Linked DNA regions of Homo sapiens: region 1 is linked to region 2. Evidence: fine-mapped expression QTL. Tissue or cell type: whole blood. Region 2 holds a variant in brackets; the other region holds the start of a gene. All regions are shown on one strand. Distances are from middle to middle.

Region 1 (9,545 bases), 23 kb before region 2:
TAAATACATACATACATACATAAAATAAAATAATAATAATAAAGAAAAAAGAAAGCAAAACCTCTTTCTGGATTTGTTTTAATATAGGTATATCGGTGCTCTCCTCTGGTTACAAGCTCAGGCCAACTCCTAAAAGCCAAACTTGAAGACCACGAAGGGTGAGATGCTGAAAAAAAATCAGCAGTTTGCAGCTCTATTTACAATCCATAATAAAAGCACTTGAAAGTCAGTCCAATTAGGAAGTTTTAAATTACTGTTTAACTGTGTTTTAAATTTCATATTAAAAAAAGATATTTTATCAACAAATAAATTCCCCCAACACTTCTGAAGATGGGATTTCTTTTCTTTTCTTTTGAGGCAGAGTCTCACTCTGTCGCCCAGGCTGGAGTGCAGTGGCACGATCTCGGCTCACTGCAACCTCTGCCTCCTGGGTTCAAATGATTCTCCTGCCTCAGCCTCCCGAGTAGCTGGGATTACAGGTGTCTGCCACCACACCAGGCTAATTTTTGTATTTTCAGTAGAGATGGGGTTTTGCCATGTTGGCCAGGCTGGTCTTGAACTCCTGACATCAGCTGATCCACCTACTTGGGCTCCCAAAGCGCTGGGATTACAGGTGTGAGTCACTGCACCTGGCCTTGAAGATGGGATTTCTTAGGGAAACCTTACTTTTCCCCTTGTGGCTTCAAAATCTCCACCTTGGCATTCCCAGTCCCTCCTCTGCAAAGGGGAGAGGAAGTAGGTCCATTCCTCCTTAGGTGGATCAACTCCACGGAGATGCCCATGTAAATGGCTGCCACTCTAAAAGACGTGGGTCAAACTGTCCCAGATCAGGCTGTGGGTAGCCCAGCTGGCAGAGCCAAGGCAACCTACCTACAGGTAGGGGCTGGATGAAGCGTGCCTTAGAGGGATTTCAGACAGAAGCCCTGTTGTGATTCTTTCAGGAAAGTATCCCAGATTGTATGTATTAGTCCTGTTGTAAAAGTCAAGACCTCCAGATGGTCTCACCCCCTCCATCTCAGCCAGCCCCTCCCTGGGTCTCCTCACTATGGTGTGGAGGAAAAAGAGGCTGGGCCAGGAGTCAGGACCCCTCAGAAGTTCCAGCTCATCTCTGATATGGGCAAAGTGATCCTGGGGAAATCTCACTTTCTCTTTGCTTAATTTGTCTGATTTCTTTCTTTCTTTCTTTCTTTTTTGGAGACAGAGTTTCGCTCTTGTTGCCCAGGCTGGAGTGCAATGGCGCAGTCTCCGCTCAATGCAACCTCTGCCTCTCGGGTTCAGGCGATTCTCCTGCCTCAGCCTCCCGAGTAGCTGGGATTACAGGCATGCATCACCATGCTCAGCTAATTTTTGTAATTTTAGTAGAGACAGGGTTTCACCATGTTGGACAGGCTGGTCTCGAACTCCTAACCTCAGGTGATCTGCCCACCTCAGCCTCCCAAAGTGCTGGCATTACAGGTGTGAGCCACCACACCCAGCCAATTTGTCTGGTTTCTTAAATGAAGGGTTGGACTAGATAACTCTTGAATGGCCCCTGGGCTTATTTCTTTCTGCATAGGACTATCCTTGAAAGATGGTAGCAGGGCACAGCCTCCTTTATCTCCTTTAGGCCCCCTATGGTCAGCCTCCTGGGGTCATTCTTCCCCAGATCGTCACTCCCAATGGACGGTATCTTTGCTTTGGAGATAGGGAGTTTCTTCCCAGAATAGGTAACAGGCTATTGAGGGAACAGACTTACTCTGTGAAAATAACCGCCATGTTCTATTGTGTGTCCAGCTCTGTGCCAGGCATTTATCGTATTGCTCAGGCTCACAACAGCCTTTGCAGGGGAGGTTTCCTCCAGTCTACAGGTGAACAAATGGAAACTCCGTGTGGTTAGGTAACCTCCAGTCTTAGGAAAGGTTACCTGTGTCTCTCTTCACCTTCCTCCCCAAACAAAGGTACATTGTCTAAGGCAGCACTTTTCCAAAGGAATAAAAGACAAAGTTACTGAATCTGAGAGAGCAGTGTCCTGGGTCTCAGCTCCTCTGAAGTCCCAGCTGGTGTGACTTCCCCTCCACAGTGGTTTTTGTGGGGCTGACTAAAGGTCAGAGATCTGGCCAGATGCCTCCCAGGGAGCCCTTAGTCCTTGTTTTCTGGGATTCTAGGATTTCAGCCCAGTATATAATTCCAGCAAAGAATCACTCTCTGCTTTATTAAACTTGTCTGCACTTAGGCAAAGTGGACTGTTTATCCTCCGTAGGGTTTTTCTTTAAAGGTGGAGCGGGGGGGCGAGTGAGCATGTGCAGAAATCCATCACCTTGCTTTCCAGTTTCCAGGCAACCGTGCAGGATTACAACAAGTCACATGATAGCGCTGCTGCCAGGGACAAGGGGAAAATGGAAAACGTGCTATCTTGAGAAACGGGCTGCTATAAGCACAGGACTTTGGATTCTCCTCTAGAAATATTATCAACAAGTAGTCAGAGACCCAGAGGCTAGAGAGAGGGCTTTCCAGTACTTGGCCCAGCCTCCTGCTGGGAGGGAAGTGTCCCACCAGATATAAAGCTGTAGGAAAGGGGACAGGCCAGGGGTGATGGTGGAGGGAGTCACTGCCCTAAAGTGACCCGAGCACCTGTTCTGGAAACCATGCTCTCAGAGGAGTTATTTTTTATTTATTTATTTTTTGAGACGGAGTTTGCTCTTGTTGCCCAGGCTGGAGTGCAATGGCACGATCTCGGCTCACCACAACCTCCGTCTCCTGGGTTCAAGCGATTCTCCTGCCTCCGCCTCTCAAGTAGCTGGGATTACAGGTATGCGCCACCATGCCTGACTAATTTTGTATTTTTAGTAGAGAAGGAGTTTCTCCATGTCGGTCAGGCTGGTCTCGAACTCCTAACCTCAGGTGATCCACCTGCCTTGGCCTCCCAAAGTGCTGGGATTACAGGCATGAGCCACTGCACCCCGGCCCTCAGAGCAGTTATTATTGACCGAGAAGATCCAAACCAAACCGGGCCTTGCTCCTGGGTCCCCAGTCCCAGTCCCAGTCCCCTCTTGCTACAGTCGCAGCCATGGGATAATGAGGTAGTCCTTTGGTTAAAGTTGAGCCTACAGTGATTAGGGCTGGTTGGGGGAGGCAGTGACGGGTCGGTGGGGACAACTGGGAGGAGAGGAAAACCACCCACAAAGACCAAGTTTCCACTTCCTTTTTGAAAACCTCTTTTTTCTGAACATTGTTTATTTTGATTTTAGATGTTTTGATTTTTCTCTCTCCCCCACCCCCCACATTGTGTGTGTGTGTGTGTGTGTGTGTGTGTGTGTGTGTGTGTGTGTGACTTTACTGTTGTTTATATGGTAGACACTTTTATGGCAATCCATACCCCTCTGTCTACATTTCTGTTCCAGTAATAACACCCTCTGTGGCCCAAAGACTCCCTGGAACCACAGTGACAGTTTTACTCTTGGCACTCCTGGGGTGGCCAAAGGTGGTGGCTGTGTTCTTGGCCCTGGGCCAGCTCAGAGCTGGTGGCTAAGAGGGTCCATGGGCCACTGACCCCCCAGAATACCAGCAGGCCGGGGCTTTTAGAGCCCACTGGTTTCCTCACACCAGCAGTTGTCCTAAGGCAAAGATGAGTCATCGGGCCACACTCTTTCCCTGGCCTTCCTGGCTGGCTTCAGGGCCACATTTCAGGGCTGGTACTGCTGTCTTTATGCCAACCTGGCTGCCTGGGGTCGAGAGCCTGGAGCTGCAGACCATGGGCACCGAAAGGCAGGTTTTGGGGAGGAGCGGCCACCTGTCATGGCACCCACGAGCCAGAGTCCAGAGTCTTAGACTAGAAAGTCTAAGAGCTTTCTAGTCCCTTGTCACAGTCCCTTAGGCTGAGGGCAGGTGGCGCACAGTCCTGCCACCTGCCCCTTTCCAGCAGATCATGGGTGGTGGATCTTCCTCCTCTTTTTTTCTTTTCTTTTTTTTTTTTGAGATGGAGTCTTGCTCTGTCGCCCAGGCTCACTGCAACCTTAACCTCCTGTGTTTAAATGATTCTCCTGCCTCAGCCTCCCGAGTAGCTGGGACTACAGGCGCCCCCCACCACGCCTGGCTAATATTTGTAGTTTTAGTAGGGACAGGGTTTCACTATGTTGGCCAGGCTGGTCTCGAATGCCTGACCTCAGGTGATCCGCCTGCCTTGGCCTCCCGAAGTGCTGGGATTACACGGGTGAGCCACCACACCCAGCCTCTTCCTTCTCTTTTTCTATGGATACCTAGATAGAGCCACAATTCTTGCATGTTTTAAAGTTCTGAAGGCCTAATGACAGGCCATCTCGCATTTAAAAGGGCTCGTCATCCATTAAGTTGGAGAGTAAGAGCCTTGCACAGCTCTGAGGCCAGGACTCTGCCTTTCACTTCTTGGATCTCTTTGGTTCACACCTTTATGTGTGTGTGTGTGTGTGTTTTTTTTTTTTTTTTTTGAGGGAGTCTCGCTTTGTCACCCAGCCTGGCGTGCAGTGGTGCCATCTTGGCTCACTGCAACCCCCCCACCCCCGTCTCCTAGGTTCAAGCGATTCTCCTGCCTCAGCCTCCCGAGTAGCTGGGACTACAGGCACGTGCCACCACACCCGGCTGATTTTTGTATTTTTAGTAGAGACGGGGTTTCGCCATATTAGGCAGGCTGGTCTCGAACTCCTGACCTCAGATGATCCTCCAGCATGGGCCTCCCAAAATGCTGGGATTACAGGCATGAGCCACCGTCCCCGGCCCTTTGTTTTTTAAAAGGAAGAAAAGTTAATTATTCGCTCATAACATAAGGAATCATTCTATAGCAGCAGCAGAATAAATACACAATGCTCTGGGTTTGTGACATATTTTCTCATTTTAACGGAGAAGAGAAGGTTGTGTGTGCCTTATAAACGTTTTTGGGCAAATGTGGGAGAAATTCAAAGGTGACAATGGGGTGAGGAGTTTTCGATACATTAAAACGGCATGCATGCCTTGTCGTTTGGAGTGGGAAAAAAGATATTCCTATCGGTTTAATATGTAACATATGGCAGAAGAGGGGACTTTGGAAGAGTAACGGGTATGCAGTTGTTTGGGAGAGATGGCCAATGTGTGCCGCTACGAGGGTCTTATGGCCAGCAGGTTAGGAAGCTGGACCTAGGTCTTCAGGGCACTGAGGTATGCCTCCTAACTGGTGTTAGCACTCAGGCCTATACTGGCGGATTCACACCCCACTTTCACACATGCACAAACGCAATTCATCCACCAACTGCAGTCCTATATTTACCCGAACTCAGATGCACGTGCACAAGCGCGCACAGGCATGCACACGCCTCCAGCGGCTGGGCCCGAGTCCGCCCTATGACAGCGGGCCAGCCAACCCCAGGGCCGGAACTCCCTTTATAAAGTCCTCCAAGCCCAAATTCCCAGGGAAACTTGAATAGAGGTAGAAAAGCGTTTGATGATAGAAAAAAAAAAATCTGCTTGCTTGCAGTTCTTGCGATGGCCATAATGCTACCAGAAACTGTTGCATTCCAGAGCCGGGGAGAGCGAGGGCAGGCAGGGGGAGGAGGCGGGAGCAAAGAGGCCGGAGAACTTAAAAGAAGAAATCAGAACTCGGGCTGAGAATGCCCTCGGGGCCGCGGGGGGCTGGCAGGGGGCGGAGGAGAGGCCGGGGAAGGGTTAACGCGGGAGCGGAGCGTGCGGCGGGGGCGGGCCGGGGCGGGGCGGGGCGGGCGCGGGGCGCTGTCCCTTTAAGGCGGGCGGCGCGGGCCGGCCGAGCGCGGCTGTGATTGGCGCGGCGGGATCACTGGCTCCGCGAGCCTGGCCCGGGGGAGTCGGCTGGAGCCGGCTGCGCTTTGATAAGGTCCTGGCAACTCAGTAACAGCCCGAGAGCCGGGAAATAAAAATAACCCCTCAGAGCGATGGATTTCGGGGCCGCCCGGCGGCCGAGGCGCCCGCCGAAGGCCCTGCTGTAAAAGGTGGGGGTGGAAGCTCGGCCCCAGCGGAGCCGCTTCAAAGAAAGCCCCCCTCTTACAGGGGGCGAGGTCGCGCCGAGCCGCGGCGTGGGCGCGGGGGGCGGGAGGGGGCCCGGCCAGGCGGAGGCCGGGCCTGGAGGGGGGCGCGGGCGGGGCGGCCCTGCGGAGCGGTGGCGGGGCTGCGGGGGGCGGCCCGGGGCGCGGCCGGCGCGTACCTCCCTTTCAGGACCGTGCGCTCGGCTCGCGCCTTTGAAGTGCACAGTTAAATCCACAGCGCAGTTTTTGTTGGAAGCGCCCGGAGGACATTTGGTGCGCCGAGTGACTGCTGGAAACAGGACCTGCGTTGAAAGCCGGGCCGGGCGGGGGCGGAGGCCCGCTCGGATCTTTTGCATAAAAGGGGCGGCGGGGCGCGCCGTTCCCCCTCCCCGGCCGGTGGCTTTCGCTCTGAACCCGGGATTGTTGTTTCCCGCACCCCCTCCCCCGCCGCACGACTCCCCATGTTCCCCGACGCCGCGGCCGGCCCGGGGGGGCCCGGGGCTGCCGCCGCGAGCCGAGCCGGGGGCCGGGGCCGGGCCCCTGCCAGGGGCGCCTGCGAGGTCTCGCCGCCGAGCGCGCGCGGGGATCAATGGTGAGTGCCGAGGCCGAGGCGGCCGGGCGGACCGCGCGCTTTGATGTGCGGGGCGGCCCTTTGAAGTTGGCAGGCCGGCTATTTCGGGGCGCGCTAGGGGCCGGCGCGGAGGGGAGCGGCGGACCCGGCGCCCAGCGTTCCGGGGGGCTTGGCCGGGCAGCCTTGCGCGCCCTGCGCCGGAGCCCCCTCCCCAGCGCGGTGACCGGGTTGGCGGGGGGCCCAGAGAGGAGACTTATCCGAGTGGCGGCAGTGGCGGGGGCGGAGAGGGGGCAGATACCCCCCGGGGGTCGCGTCGCTGTCGCGGTTATGGATGTGAGTCGGCGTGTGAGTGCGCGCGGGAGTGCCTTTGGGAGGTGGGATGAAAGGGTAGCGGCGCCCCCCGCTTGCCCTCCCCCGCCCCCCGCCTCTCCTCCGCCCCATCCTCTCCTCCTACTTCTCTTCCCCCTCCCCTTTTCCCCTCCCTGCCGCGGGTCCGCGCTAAGGGGCCCACAGCGCTGGCGGAGGCTCAGTCTGCGCGCAGGACCGGCCCAAGTCCGGGGCGCCCGTGTCCCTCGCGTCCCTCCTCCCGGCCCGGGCCCCTCGCCCGTGGCCGCCCCGGCCCCTTTTGCGGAGAGGCAGAGACTCCGCGCGTCGCCATTTCTGGACTAGGCTGCTGCTTTCTGTGCTTTTTCTGCGGGCGCCTCTGCAAACGGCGGCGCCGGGGACCGACCCCCCGCCCGGGCTCGGGGCGCTGCTGGCGTGTCCCGGGGTTCCGGCCTCGAGGTGTGCCCGCCAGGGCTCTGGAGGCGTTCAGTTGCATTTGGGCCGGGGGACCGGGCCGGAGGGGCTCGGAGGACATGAGAGCCTGGCTTCGGCGGCCTTCGTCTTCCAGGTAACGGGGCCGCTCCACCTCCCACCGCCCGGGTAGCGCGGTGCCAACGGCAGCCCCACTTCTCCGTGGGCCGCGCCGCCCAGCCCCGCGGCTCGAGGCTCTGGTCGGGTTCAGCGTGCACCCATCCCAGATCCGGGGTCCCTGGCTTCTCGCCCGGGGTTGCACCCCGTTCAGCCCCTACCCTTCTTAGTTTGATCTTTTCCGTGCTAGGGAAAGCAGCTTGTTTATTGGTTAGATAAGACTTTTTTCTTTGGAAAAAAGACAGGCTTGAAATCAGTAGAGTTTGGGATTCTTGGCACAGGCAGTAGTGGCGTGAGACGGCTGGTGATCCAGTTTTGTAGGTTTCGCGGATCCGGGAGGTGGGTTGGGGGCACGGGGGCGACGGTTCCGAGGCTTCTCAGCTCTCTCTCAAAGTTTGAAGATGAAAGTCTCCCCTGAGTGAGTTGGTTTCTGGTTTGGGGGGAGGTCAGGGAAGACAGAGGTGTTGACTGAGCTGGATTCTTGGTGGGGGTAGGGGGCGCGTAGCGAACACTCAAATCTGAGTTGGGGAGGGGGTGTTTGCGTGCTGAATCTGGGAGTCCGGGAGCCCAATCCGCCTATGCTGGGCGGGCTTCTCTTGGGCCAGGATCTTCTGAATTTTTAAGGAGTGGGAAGAGGGAGCGCAGAGGGAGGGGGTGGGTGGGGAGAATGGGAACCAGATGCCGGGGAAGGGCACGTTTGGAGCTCGAGTTATCTGTGCAGGGCCGAGTGGGGAAATATACCGAAATTGGTTTCACCTGCACACAGCCTAGCGGCTGGGAGTGCGCCTTTTTGGAGTTGATGGTATCGGGGGAGGGGAAGGGAGGGAAGGCGAGGCGCGGGCTGAGCTGCCCTGCGTGCGCCCTGGCCGAGTGGGTTTTTGGAAGGTTGTGTCTTACACCTCCAGTGTCCCCCTGCCGTCCCCAGCTCTTGCCTTCCTCTCACCTTCCCCGCCTCTTTCCCAACAGCTCCCTCCCACCCCCAACCCCGAAAAGTGTGCAGGGAGCTCAGATTTCGCTTTTGAAAAGCAGCGCCTGATACTTTAGATGAGCACCTCGCAGATAGCTGGGTTGCTTGATTTGAATTTGAGGAGTTGAAAAGCCTGTTTACTTTCTTGCTTTGATGTTGGGTAGATCTGGTTTTGATTAGATCAATACCCTTTTCTCTCTCCCCACCTCCCCCCTTCCTTTTCTTTCCAGAGAGGAGGTTCAGATGAGCCCCTGCTGACTTGAGAGAGACAGAGAGACCACGCCGATTGCTGAGAGGAACTGGAAGAAGAAAAATTCCCAGACTCAGTGGGAAGAGCTCCCTCACCATGAGTAGCGCTATGTTGGTGACTTGCCTCCCGGACCCCAGCAGCAGCTTCCGTGAGGATGCCCCGCGGCCCCCAGTGCCAGGGGAAGAAGGGGAGACCCCACCGTGTCAGCCAGGGGTGGGCAAGGGCCAGGTCACCAAACCCATGCCTGTCTCTTCCAACACCAGGCGGAACGAAGATGGGTTGGGGGAGCCGGAGGGGCGGGCATCTCCGGATTCCCCTCTGACCCGGTGGACCAAGTCCTTACACTCCTTATTGGGCGATCAAGACGGTGCTTACCTGTTCCGAACTTTCCTGGAGAGGGAGAAATGCGTGGATACCTTAGACTTCTGGTTTGCCTGCAATGGATTCAGGCAGATGAACCTGAAGGATACCAAAACTTTACGAGTAGCCAAAGCGATCTACAAAAGGTACATTGAGAACAACAGCATTGTCTCCAAGCAGCTGAAGCCTGCCACCAAGACCTACATAAGAGATGGCATCAAGAAGCAGCAGATTGATTCCATCATGTTTGACCAGGCGCAGACCGAGATCCAGTCGGTGATGGAGGAAAATGCCTACCAGATGTTTTTGACTTCTGATATATACCTCGAATATGTGAGGAGTGGGGGAGAAAACACAGCTTACATGAGTAATGGGGGACTCGGGAGCCTAAAGGTCGTGTGTGGCTATCTCCCCACCTTGAATGAAGAAGAGGAGTGGACTTGTGCCGACTTCAAGTGCAAACTTTCGCCAACCGTGGTTGGCTTGTCCAGCAAAACTCTGAGG
Region 2 (11,109 bases):
ATTACAGGCGTGAGCCACCACAACCTGCCAAAAAAAATTTTTTTAACGTTAACTGCCAGACTCCCACCAAAATCCTTGCAGCACTGGAGGCAGAAGGCTTGTGGGCCATTCCAGGGCATCAGGCTTAGAAGGATGGAGTAAAGAGGGTGAAAATGTCAGAAGCAGCAGACTCTTTGCCGCCCAAGTGTAGCCATGGTTAGATGTTGCCAGGAATCATGAAAGCTAAGTCAGTGGTGTGGAGGCCTTTGTCTCTTCTTTCTGCTAGGAGTTGCTCTTGTAATCAGGATCAGCTACGTTTGTATGTTGCTTCAGCTCTGAGTGTCCCCAAATCAGCACAAGATGATTTTTTGGTGTTTCACACAGGGAATGTCGCGAGTTATTTATTTGTATTTCTTTATATCTTATTTATGGGGGTTTACTTTGGACACCAGGAAATGCATCTGAGTGAACTTCAAATACTAACCTTTTCCTACAAACCAGGCTTTTGATGTTGGCTGTGATCAGAGGCTGCCTTCAGAGTGGTTGCCAAATGAAGATGCGAGTGGACGCATGTGTGCATGAGTCTGCTATTTCAAAGTCGCCAGAAAATGACATTCAGGTTAGGTCGGGCACGGTGGAGTCAAAAGGCTAAGCTAATTGGCTCGGCTCAAATGGCAGCTAAGTGGAGTCCACACTTCAAAACCATGCTCCCCAGAAACAGCTGGGCCCGGCAGCAGGCTCGTTAACTAAAATGTTTATAATTAAAGGAGACCGTATAGGGACCACAACTCTGGTGCTCTCCAGCCCACAGGCTTGAGCAGCCAGGAAACTGATCACAGACTTTTAGAGCTTGAATAAAAGAAGAGAGGCCCCCTTTTGGAATGAGGGGCTGTTTTGGAAGAAGATTCTTGGCTGGAGGGAATTAAAGCCACATTTCCTTGAAGGTGCCTGTTAAGCCTTTCTGAGCCTCTACAGGCTGACATCTTCCTTTTCTGCTCTGGTTACAAGTTGCCTTTCCAGCAGTTTAGTCCTTCACCTGCCCTGGGTAATGGAGTGTGTGTGGTGGTGGTGGTGGGGGATGGGGGGCGGGGTATGAGGTGCTTATGAAATCATTTGTTCCTTTTGCCTTCAATATTGCAGTTATCTACTCCCCTCCCCATCCCTACCCCCATCCTGTTTTTTTTTTTTAACCTTATTATATGGAAGAAGAAAAAGAGGCATAAAAGCTCTACCACTGACTTTCATCTGGGAGAAGGAAGAGTGAAAGCTACCAGTGGAAATGTCAAGAGTCTTGGAGGGGGTGGACGGGGGACTCTTCTAGGACTCTTGAAGCCTTATGTCACTTGTGTCATGGTGGGGTCCATGGAGTGCTTGACTCCTGCCCCCAAGACTGTCAGGAACAGGGCTGAAGCAGAGTCATCCACTGTCTAAGTCCCTAGAAGAGAGATGGAGGATAGACATTGTCTTACAGCCCTAGGGCAGCAGAATTTGGTTAGACCAGCATGAGCCCAATCTGTGGGATACCGCCACCCCTACCATACAAGGTATCTTAGGTGAGAGATGGGGATATTCAGCATGGCTTGGGAACCACCTGGCGAGCCCCATAGCTAGTGAGTACTAGGTGGTTGGGGAGGACTTCCCAGAAAATTCCACAAATTTCCCCCTCATGCCTTATCAATGTCAGGTGACTGCGTGGGGCTTAGGAAATGGCATCTCCACATTAAGACCATCAGGAAGCTTGACTGCTGATTGGGGCTGGGAAGGGCATCTTATTGAAATGACCAAGTGTAGGTTGTTACAGATGCCTGTTCTGGAGTCCAGCAGTGGCTTGGGTATGAGTTGTCAATCTGCTACTGACTGTAACACTAGGTGAGCTATTGAGCATTTCTGGTCATCTGTAAAATGTGGCTCATTAAGGTTCTTATGAGAATGAAGTCTGATTATAGGTCCAATGTCTGACGTACAGTAGGGACTCGGTATCTATGAGCTGGCATTCTCAGGTTGGCATCAGTTGCCTTGGGTGCGATTTGGTTTCTGGTCAAGCCAGGCATGCTTATAAGTCCCGTTTTCAGCTACCCAAGGTGAAGACACAGAGTTTTGATAAATAATCTTTAGGTGGGCTTGGTCAGGTGCCGAGCCTCATGAGTAGGAGGCTGTTTCTCAGTCATGAGTAGAAGACGTGTTTCTCCAGCACTGGTCAGCCAGCTGCTGCGAATCCTTCCCACAGTGCTCTGTCTCTGCTCCATACTTACCTTTCTTTGGGGCAGTACTCACACTTGGGGGTAAGTTGTTGCTCTGGATACTGATCTCTCTTCTCTCCCTTCCCTACTCACCTCAGTGCAATTATCGTTTATGCACTCCTTAGCCAGGGTTTGGTTAACATACATTGGTTTGTTGATCTATTGGAATCTTCATTGTCCCTTGTGTTCCTGTTTTCTGACCTAGGTCAGTAGACTTCCTGAAAATGCAGCTATTTAGAATTCTAGGGCATTTCAGATAAGGAGCTAGAGGTTGACTAGTTACTCCTGGCTTGCCCCCTGGGTATTTTTAGACATTGCTAATTATCCTATTTTTCTTCCACCCTATGATGAACCAGACATTGGGGAAAGGGAAGTAGCCAAACACCCAATTTCAATATTTACAGCCTCCAAGTATGATTCATTATGAAAATGTTTGCACCCTGAGGCTTTTGTAAATAAGTGGCCTCCTGAAGGGACATCAATGGGAAAATAGTCACACCTTGACCATTCTGCTTTTAAGAAGGAAATTCTTTCTGGAAAAAATCATGGCAACTCTAGGTCATAGTTGTAGTGAACACTAGCTGGAGTGGCAGCTTTTTAAAAATTCTTCTACTTGTTAATGTTTTGTTTTTAAAAATATAATGGATAGGGGCCCATACTTCTTCAGGTCTTTGCCCAAAGGTCCCTTTCTCAATGAGGACTTGACACCCACATCCAATTTAAATTTGCAGCTTACCCACTCACCAGTGATTCTCCTTTTCCTGCTGTGTATTTATTCATAGTACATATCACTAACATACTATTTTTTATTTTGTTCATTGCCTGTGCCTCCCCATTAGAATGTAAACTTCAAGAGGGCAGTTGTTTGAATTATGTATCCACTTTGTCTACTGCTCTCTTGCCTAGTGCCTAGGAGAAGATCTGGCACATAGTAGGTGCTAATCTTTAAATGGATTGCACAGACCACCACATAGTAGGGGCTTTTCTCTTCATGCCCACATTGGTCATGTGTCTTTGAAAATTCATTGGTTGGGGGTGGTAGGGTTTGGAGCTGAGAGAAGGGGCCTAAATGTTATATATTCTTTTTATTAATCACGCTGTACTGGTTTATAAAAAGAAATACATTTGGAAATGACTAGGAGGTTGACTTGGAGAGTTATGCATGCTTCACTAATGCCTGATTTAGCCCTCTGTAGGTTTGGTTCTTATCCCTACAACTTTCTGCCCTGGCCCTATCCATAAGGCACTGGTTCCTGGTTTGAAGCAGTGGGAACAAGTGGGAGGACCAGTGGGGCCTGAGAATCTCCTACTTAGGGCACCTGTAAAATAGGGGAGCCTTTGCTCTGCCTGGGCTGGCTGGAGTGTAACCCAGTTCTAAGACAACAGTCCGAGAGATTAACTTTCCAGGCTCTTTCCAAGTTGATGCTTCTGCATCCAAGGAAGCCAAGTTTCCATAGATGATTGATGGGCAGGATTTAAATTTGACCTTGGGTGGGTCCTTCCCTGTGGGAGCACCGATGGTATCTGGAGACATGTGACACTCCTATGGAAGCATGTGGCCCTGTCGGCGGGATCTCAAGATGGCATATGACAGTAGCCCATGTGATGTGCTGAAAACATCCTCGTAAGCCTGTGGATTCTGTCTTTTCCTTTCCCTTAGAGATGGAATTCCTCCTTATCGTGTGGGCAGTAAGAAACAGCTCCAGAGAGAAATGCATCGCAGTGTGAAGGCCAATGGCCAAGTGTCTCTACCTCATTTCCCGGTGAGTACAGTCTGGAGTGAGGAGACAGCTGTTTTCTGCCATGTTGAGTCCTAAAGAAAAGAAATGGGTGGTGGAATGGGGAGAGGTATAGGGAAGGTAGAAAAGAGCAGTACCTAAGGTCCCCTAGGGCAAAGGGAGAGAAAAGAACTGGACAATAGGCATTACATGGTTTTTTGGGTTGTGATGGTGAGCACAGTGATGTGATTATGAGGTATCAGTCAGTTTTGCTATAAAGGAATACCTGAGGTTGAGTAATTTATAAAAAGAAGAGGTTTACGGCTGGGCACAGTGGCTCATGCCTGTAATCTCAGCACTTTGGGAGTCGGAGGTGGGCAGATCACCTGAGGTCAGGAGTTCGAGACCCAGCCTGGCCAACATGGTGAAGCCCCACCACTACTAAAAATACAAAAATTAGCCTAGCGTGGTGACGTGCGCCTGTAGTCCCAGCTACTTGGGAGCCTGAGGCAGGGGAATCACTTGAACCTGGGAGGTGGAGGTTGTAGTGAGCTAACGCCAGTGCACTCCAGCCTGGGCGACAGAGCGAGACTCCTTCTCAAAAGAAAAAACAAAGAAAAGAGGTTTATTTGGTTCATGGATCTGCAGGCTATTCAAGAACCATGGCGCCAACATCTGCTTCTGGTGAAGGTCTCAGGGAGCTTTCAATCATGATGCGCAAGGGGAAGGAGAGCCAGTTTGTAACATAGCGGGAGAAACAGCAAGCTGAGGTTGGGGGGGTGGTGGGCAATGCCATGTTCTTTCAAACAACCAGATCTCATATGAACTACAGGGAAAACTTGCTCATTACTGCAGGGAGGGCACGAAACACCTCCCACTAGGTGCACTTCCACCATTGGGGATCATATTTCAACATGAGATTTGGAGGGGACAAGCATCCCAACTATGTGAGAGGTTTGATGACCTATTTTTGAACCTTTGCATTTTCTGAATTCAAAAAAAAAATTCCCTATCAGAAAGAAACTGAAGCACTTATTTCCCAGAAACTAAGAAATGCTAGATGATCCATGCTTCTCTACAGCTTGGTGAGCTCACTGTATTTCCACTAGAATGGAAGCCCTCTGATGGGAGGGAGTTTTATCTATTCTGTTAACCTCTGTATGCACAGAGACTAGAACAGTACCTGACACATAATAGGTGCTCAATAAACATTTGAGTGAATGAATAAGGAACCTCTGCCCCCCCTTGGGACATCCTCCTGCTCTCTTCACTGGGACATTCTACTTCTTGTGTCAACCACAGGACTCCAAGTCATTTTAGTCAGTGATTTTAGTCATTTATTTATGTATTCATTGACCATTTCTCCTCCTGGCTCCTGAAGCCCTGGAGGGTAGCTGTTCCTTTCCAACTCCAGAACTTGGCTTGGTACCTGCTGGTGAGTCTGTGCCTATCAAATGCGGAATGAACGAAGTGTTTAGAAGTGAGGATCTCCTGAGCAGCTTCTTCCTGTGACTGAGATGGTGGATGAAGGGCTCTTCTGGGACCTCTGCTTTTATTTCCATGCTTGCTAAAGCAGCCAGCACATGGCTGTACTCAAGAGAACTTCCCCATCTACATTCCCATTTTAGGGCTGTGCTGTTTACAACAGCCTCAGATCCAGGTTGCAAGGAGGGGAGGGGAAGAAAGCACCCAGCTCACAGCAGGTGTTTATGAATCCTTCCTGCCAGCTTCAGAGAATCTAATTGGTCTGGTTATGTTGTGTTTAAAAAATTAACACATTGAATTGCTAAACCCATGTTGCATTAGTGCACAAACTATAGCTCTTCTCTGAAAGCTCCTCACACAGACAAGGGCAGACTTACCTTGTTTTAAAATTAGCATATTAAAATTGCTTTTCTGAGGACCTCTAGCATCCCCTCCCTCTACAGATAACAAGTATTGATGACATACTATCATTGTTTTTTTGACTGGGGGATATGTGAGTTAACAAAGAAAAGTTCTATCGCCCAAGCTTGTAAATTAGATGATTTTGTCCTGGGGTGTGCAAATCGACTTTCTCCATCAGGCAGCGCTTTGATCAGGGGCTGCAAGGAGCCAGCCTGTGTGAGAATGGCCACCTACACAGGAGCCTTTCTCTTCTTCCCCAGTTTCTGCAGCTAAGTGGTTGCCGTGGCAAGGCCCATCTTTTCAGCTGGGGGAGATGCTAGCCTTTGCAAGTTAGCTTTCTGCTACCCCCACCCCAGCCCAAAGAAAGGAGCTAAGCAAGAGGGAGATTAGGAAGAAGGAGGTAGAACAACTGGAGAGGTGGGGGGTTGGGTGGGGGGAGCGAGATGACAGGAAAAGGACAGAAAGCTGGGCAGCAGGGGTTCTCTCTGTTTGCTGCTTTTGGCAGGCGTACTCGGTGCCTTTTTATATTCTGCACTTGATTTGGAGATGTTCCCTTTTCCCTTGATAGATCAGCTTCAGGCAGCCAAGCTCAGCAGTGTTCTGCTACTAGCCTGCAGCAGCTTTCTTCATTTTCTGTACAAAGAGAGAGGGAGGAGGGAAGGAGAAAAACGAGGGAGATCGAGGACAGTGTTGAGACACCACCACCTCAAAGGTGCGCAGTGTGCGGCCAGGAAATAAATTACCACTTCTTCTCTGATCCAGGCCGTTTGACTCCCTTTTCCCCCACTTTCTTTCCTCCCACCTCCTTTCCAATCTTATTTTTTTAAATTTTCAACTCTCTTTCTGTTTAGATTCTACTTTCTATTCCTTGAGTTGGTCTCTCCCCTCCCCACCTCAGAGGGCTGCCTTTTTTTTTTTTTTTTTTTTTTTTTTTTTTTTTTTTTTGATGGTTGACAACAGTCTTTGAAGATTTTCTACTTCAAAGTAACTACTGATGGGCTGGTTGTACTACAGAAAGAACAAGCAGGGCCTCTCGGAGTGCGACCAACTGCTCCTGCCCAAGGCAAACGCTGGTGGGGACCATGGCTCTCCATGAGGCCATGGCGCTAGCGCATAAAAGTCCCGAGCAGCCCAGGCCGCCTTGCCATCCACTCTACACCCGAACATGGGTTTGCGGTGCACAGCGCCTGGT[G/T]CGGGAAGCTCCGGCCAAGCCACCGCCCACCTAGCCTGCTGAACGTGCCTCCTCCCTTTCCTTTCCACGTCCTGTAGAGAACCCACCGCCTGCCCAAGGAGATGACCCCCGTGGAACCCGCCACCTTTGCAGCTGAGCTGATCTCGAGGCTGGAAAAGCTGAAGCTGGAGTTGGAGAGCCGCCACAGCCTGGAGGAGCGCCTGCAGCAGATCCGAGAGGTAATGCGGCCTAGGCCTTCTTCCTGCTTCCGTCCACGGCGTGAGCGCTCGTATGTGTATGCGCATGTGCATGGGGTGCGTTAGGGTGTGCGCATGTGCGTGGGTTGCATGCGCATGCGCGTGGGCTGCGTGTGGGTGTGTGCCTGGGCGTGGGCTGTGTGCGCATGTGCATGGGTTGCGTGTGGGTGTGCATATGCGTGTGGATATGTGCTTGTGTAGGCGGGCCTGTGCGTGTGCGCATGGGCGTGGCTGTGGGCGTGCACACGGGTGTGCGTGCTCCTGCGTAGGGAGCCGAATGTTGCAACCCCAGGGCCTCTGGCCCTTCTGCTTCCTGGGTCACTTCTCCTTCTGACGTCTTCCCTTTCAGGATGAAGAGAGAGAGGGCTCCGAGCTCACACTCAATTCGCGGGAGGGGGCGCCCACGCAGCACCCCCTCTCCCTACTGCCCTCCGGCAGCTACGAGGAAGACCCGCAGACGATACTGGACGATCACCTGTCCAGGGTCCTCAAGACCCCTGGCTGCCAGTCTCCAGGCGTAGGCCGCTATAGCCCCCGCTCCCGCTCCCCGGACCACCACCACCACCACCATTCGCAGTACCACTCCCTGCTCCCGCCCGGTGGCAAGCTGCCTCCCGCGGCCGCCTCGCCGGGCGCCTGCCCCCTCCTCGGGGGCAAAGGCTTTGTGACCAAGCAGACGACGAAGCATGTCCACCACCACTACATCCACCACCATGCCGTCCCCAAGACCAAGGAGGAGATCGAGGCGGAGGCCACGCAGCGGGTGCACTGCTTCTGCCCTGGGGGCAGCGAGTATTACTGCTACTCGAAATGCAAAAGCCACTCCAAGGCTCCGGAAACCATGCCCAGCGAGCAGTTTGGGTAAGTGCCGGGCGGACCGCAGTGTCCCGTGTGGGGCTTGTCTCCCAGCCAGGTCCATGGGCAGGTGTGAGGTGGGAGCCGCATTACAGGCATTTAGTTTCTAAGAGGGCGGCAGAGTGCACGGCCGGGTGAGGGTGCGGGGAGCAGGTGCATGGGTCTTTCGTGTCACCAGCCCCCCGACTTGCTGAATTGTCTGATTCTAGGAGTCCCGGAGATTTAACCGGGTCTCTGGGTTGGGTGTGGTTCTTGGTTCCCCACAGCGGCAGCAGAGGCAGTACCTTGCCCAAACGCAATGGGAAAGGCACGGAGCCGGGCCTGGCCCTGCCCGCCAGGGAAGGAGGGGCCCCCGGCGGAGCTGGGGCCCTGCAGCTTCCCCGGGAGGAAGGAGACAGGTCGCAGGATGTCTGGCAGTGGATGCTGGAGAGTGAGCGGCAGAGCAAGCCCAAGCCCCATAGGTAAACACCGCTTGCCGCCGCCGCGGCCGCGAGGGTCATGGGCACTCAGTACGGAGGTATTGTGGGAATGGCTGTTTTTGCAGTCCGCGGAATACAAATGTGACTATTTGCTCCTGCCATCTTAATATTAAACGTTGGACTGAGCAGACCACAAAAATGTCATGTTTTGGCACTGACCCCTGTTCATGTTATGGTAGTTTTTTTTTTAACTCTCTCTCTGAGCAGAATAGACAAGTTTCTATTGAAGTCACATTTTCCAGTTCTTCTAACCCAGTTTCTTTCCTTCTGTTTTCTCTCTGCTCATTCCTTGTTTAGTGCCCAAAGCACAAAAAAGGCCTACCCCTTGGAGTCTGCCCGCTCGTCTCCAGGCGAACGAGCCAGCCGGCACCATCTGTGGGGGGGCAACAGCGGGCACCCCCGCACCACCCCCCGTGCCCACCTGTTCACCCAGGACCCTGCGATGCCTCCCCTGACCCCACCCAACACGCTGGCTCAGCTGGAGGAGGCCTGTCGCAGGCTAGCTGAGGTGTCGAAGCCCCCAAAGCAGCGGTGAGTGGAAGTGAAGGGTCCTAGGTTGAGGCAGGGATTGGGTTTGGGTGGAGACCTGGTCTGTGGCTAATGGGGAGGGCCTCTCTTTCTGCCTGGGTCTCAAACCCTCCCATGAGAAGAAGAATTACTTATGGATGAGTAAGCTGCTGCTTTCCAGCTTCTAGAAATTGTTCCCTTCAGTTATGTTCATTCTACTAGAGTTAAGCCAGGATCTGTGAGGCAAGTCATGCCTAGAATTGGGAGAATGAATTTCAGCAATTGCTTACAAATCCCATTCCTTACAAATGTCTTGATTGTTTAAGGCTGGTTAGTTGAGTATATAAGAAGCTGTGAGATGGAGGATCAAGAGTCCTCAGCCCTTTGCTGGGGCTGAGAATGTCCCATCCTGGGCTCCCAGGGGGGCTTAGAATGGCTGTTCCAAGACGTCTTCCTGGCCTCTTCAGCCACTGTTAACCCAGGGTCTTGGTTGGGTCTCCGTAAGGATGGAAGTCGGGTTCGTGTCTCTTCAGGAGGCCAAATAGTAATTTTCTGTCTGCTTTTCAATTGCTCTGGGGACAACAGTGTACCTCTAAATCCCTCGCCCTGGCTGTGTCCTCAGGTGCTGTGTGGCCAGTCAGCAGAGGGACAGGAATCATTCGGCCACTGTTCAGACGGGAGCCACACCCTTCTCCAATCCAAGCCTGGCTCCAGAAGAGTGAGTGTCTTTACCTGACATTACTGAGATCTGCCGAGTGCTTTATGTTTCAGAATATTCGCTATCTGGAGTTTCATTTTCATGAAACTTTTTTTGGTTTTTAAAATCACTTTGATTTTAGCGCTAGTGATGAGGAACAGTAAACGTAGATGTTGCCATCCATGTCCTGCCGACAAATGCATCATAGCAAAAGTTTTTCTGGTCATACACAAATCAAAAGCTGGGACATGAAGCCATTAGCAGAAGTGTAGAAGGGACCTCAAATTCAGCTGGAAAAGTTGCCCCCATTCAACTTGCAATTTAGTAGTACTGGAAACATTTGTCACCCCTGAGCAGAAAGATCATTCTCCACTGTGGCAGAGGTGGAGGGGACCATCCTTGTGTTTTTGTTTGGAGAAGACAGAATATCTTCCCCCAAATTGGGCAGTGATTCTTTTTGTAAATTTAGTCTCTTTCAAAGTAGGTTGAGGAGCCTGCTCGTTTAATTACTGGATGGTGCAATTAAAAAGAAATCTGCTAAAGAGATCTAAAATGGTCTGTATCAAGTTTTCTTTCTTAGTGTCTTCATCCTGAGCAATGAGCAATGTTTGAAGTCCTCAATAGGCCACTGCCCTGGACCCTTTCATTGTTTCAATTGGTTGACCCTAAGTGTACCAGCTCTCTGGGTCTGGGCCAGCCACTTTTTTTTTTCTTTTTGAGACAGAGTCTCGCCCTGTTGCCCAGGCTGGAGTGCAGTGGCTTAATCTTGGCCCACTGCAGCCTCCGCCTCCTGGGTTCAGGCAGTTCTCCTGCCTCAGCCTCCCGAGTAGCTGGGATTGCAGGCGCCCACCACCACACCCAGCTCCTTTTTTGTATTGTTAGTAGAGACAGGGTTTCGCCATGTTGGCCAAGCTGGTCTCAAACTCCTGACCTCAAGTGATCCGCCCACCTCGGCCTCCCAAAGTGCTGGGATTACAGGCGTGAGCCACCACGCCCGGCCTAGCAGCCTTTTTTTCAAGCCATTCTACAAAATCTCAGAAGAAATGGGGAAATGGACATGACTGTGTGATAACCCCCATTAGTTGTTCTCATTCTGCTGGAATAAGGGGTGGGCTTTAGGCATTCTGAGATCATGCCATCCCAAAGGTGTCCTGCTCTGGGTTTGTCTCTTTAGCACTCTCCAATCCAGGTGAGACCCGGCATCTCTGTGATAATTTCTCTTCTCTCATCTTCTTGAGGAAGCACCCCATTTATGCCAGCCTGAAAGAGGCCGCCGTATACTTTCATTTGGTGGCGGTGGGGGAAATGATACCAATTTG

Evidence for each region. PIP is the estimated chance that this variant, and not a neighbour inherited with it, causes the effect.
Region 1: AXIN2 starts here. The variant in region 2 is fine-mapped to the expression of AXIN2 in whole blood (INTERVAL, PIP above 0.99). The same link has a PIP of 0.9 or more in T cells.

The regions. Positions count from the first base shown.
Region 1 is chr17:65,557,853-65,567,397 of GRCh38, reverse strand. It overlaps AXIN2 (axin 2), which reads left to right and starts at 5,750. Exons shown (of 11, transcript NM_004655.4): 1 at 5,750-5,948; 2 at 8,662-9,545. The coding sequence starts at 8,778. RefSeq lists a silencer at 5,587-5,736.
Region 2 is chr17:65,534,328-65,545,436 of GRCh38, reverse strand. AXIN2 (axin 2) reads left to right here. Exons shown (of 11, transcript NM_004655.4): 4 at 3,880-3,982; 5 at 7,094-7,234; 6 at 7,602-8,113; 7 at 8,374-8,568; 8 at 8,884-9,117; 9 at 9,716-9,811. Among named protein-coding and RNA genes, the nearest start is that of AXIN2, 22 kb to the left of the region's middle. RefSeq lists a silencer at 2,580-2,780. The variant G/T (reference allele first, on the strand shown) is at 7,017.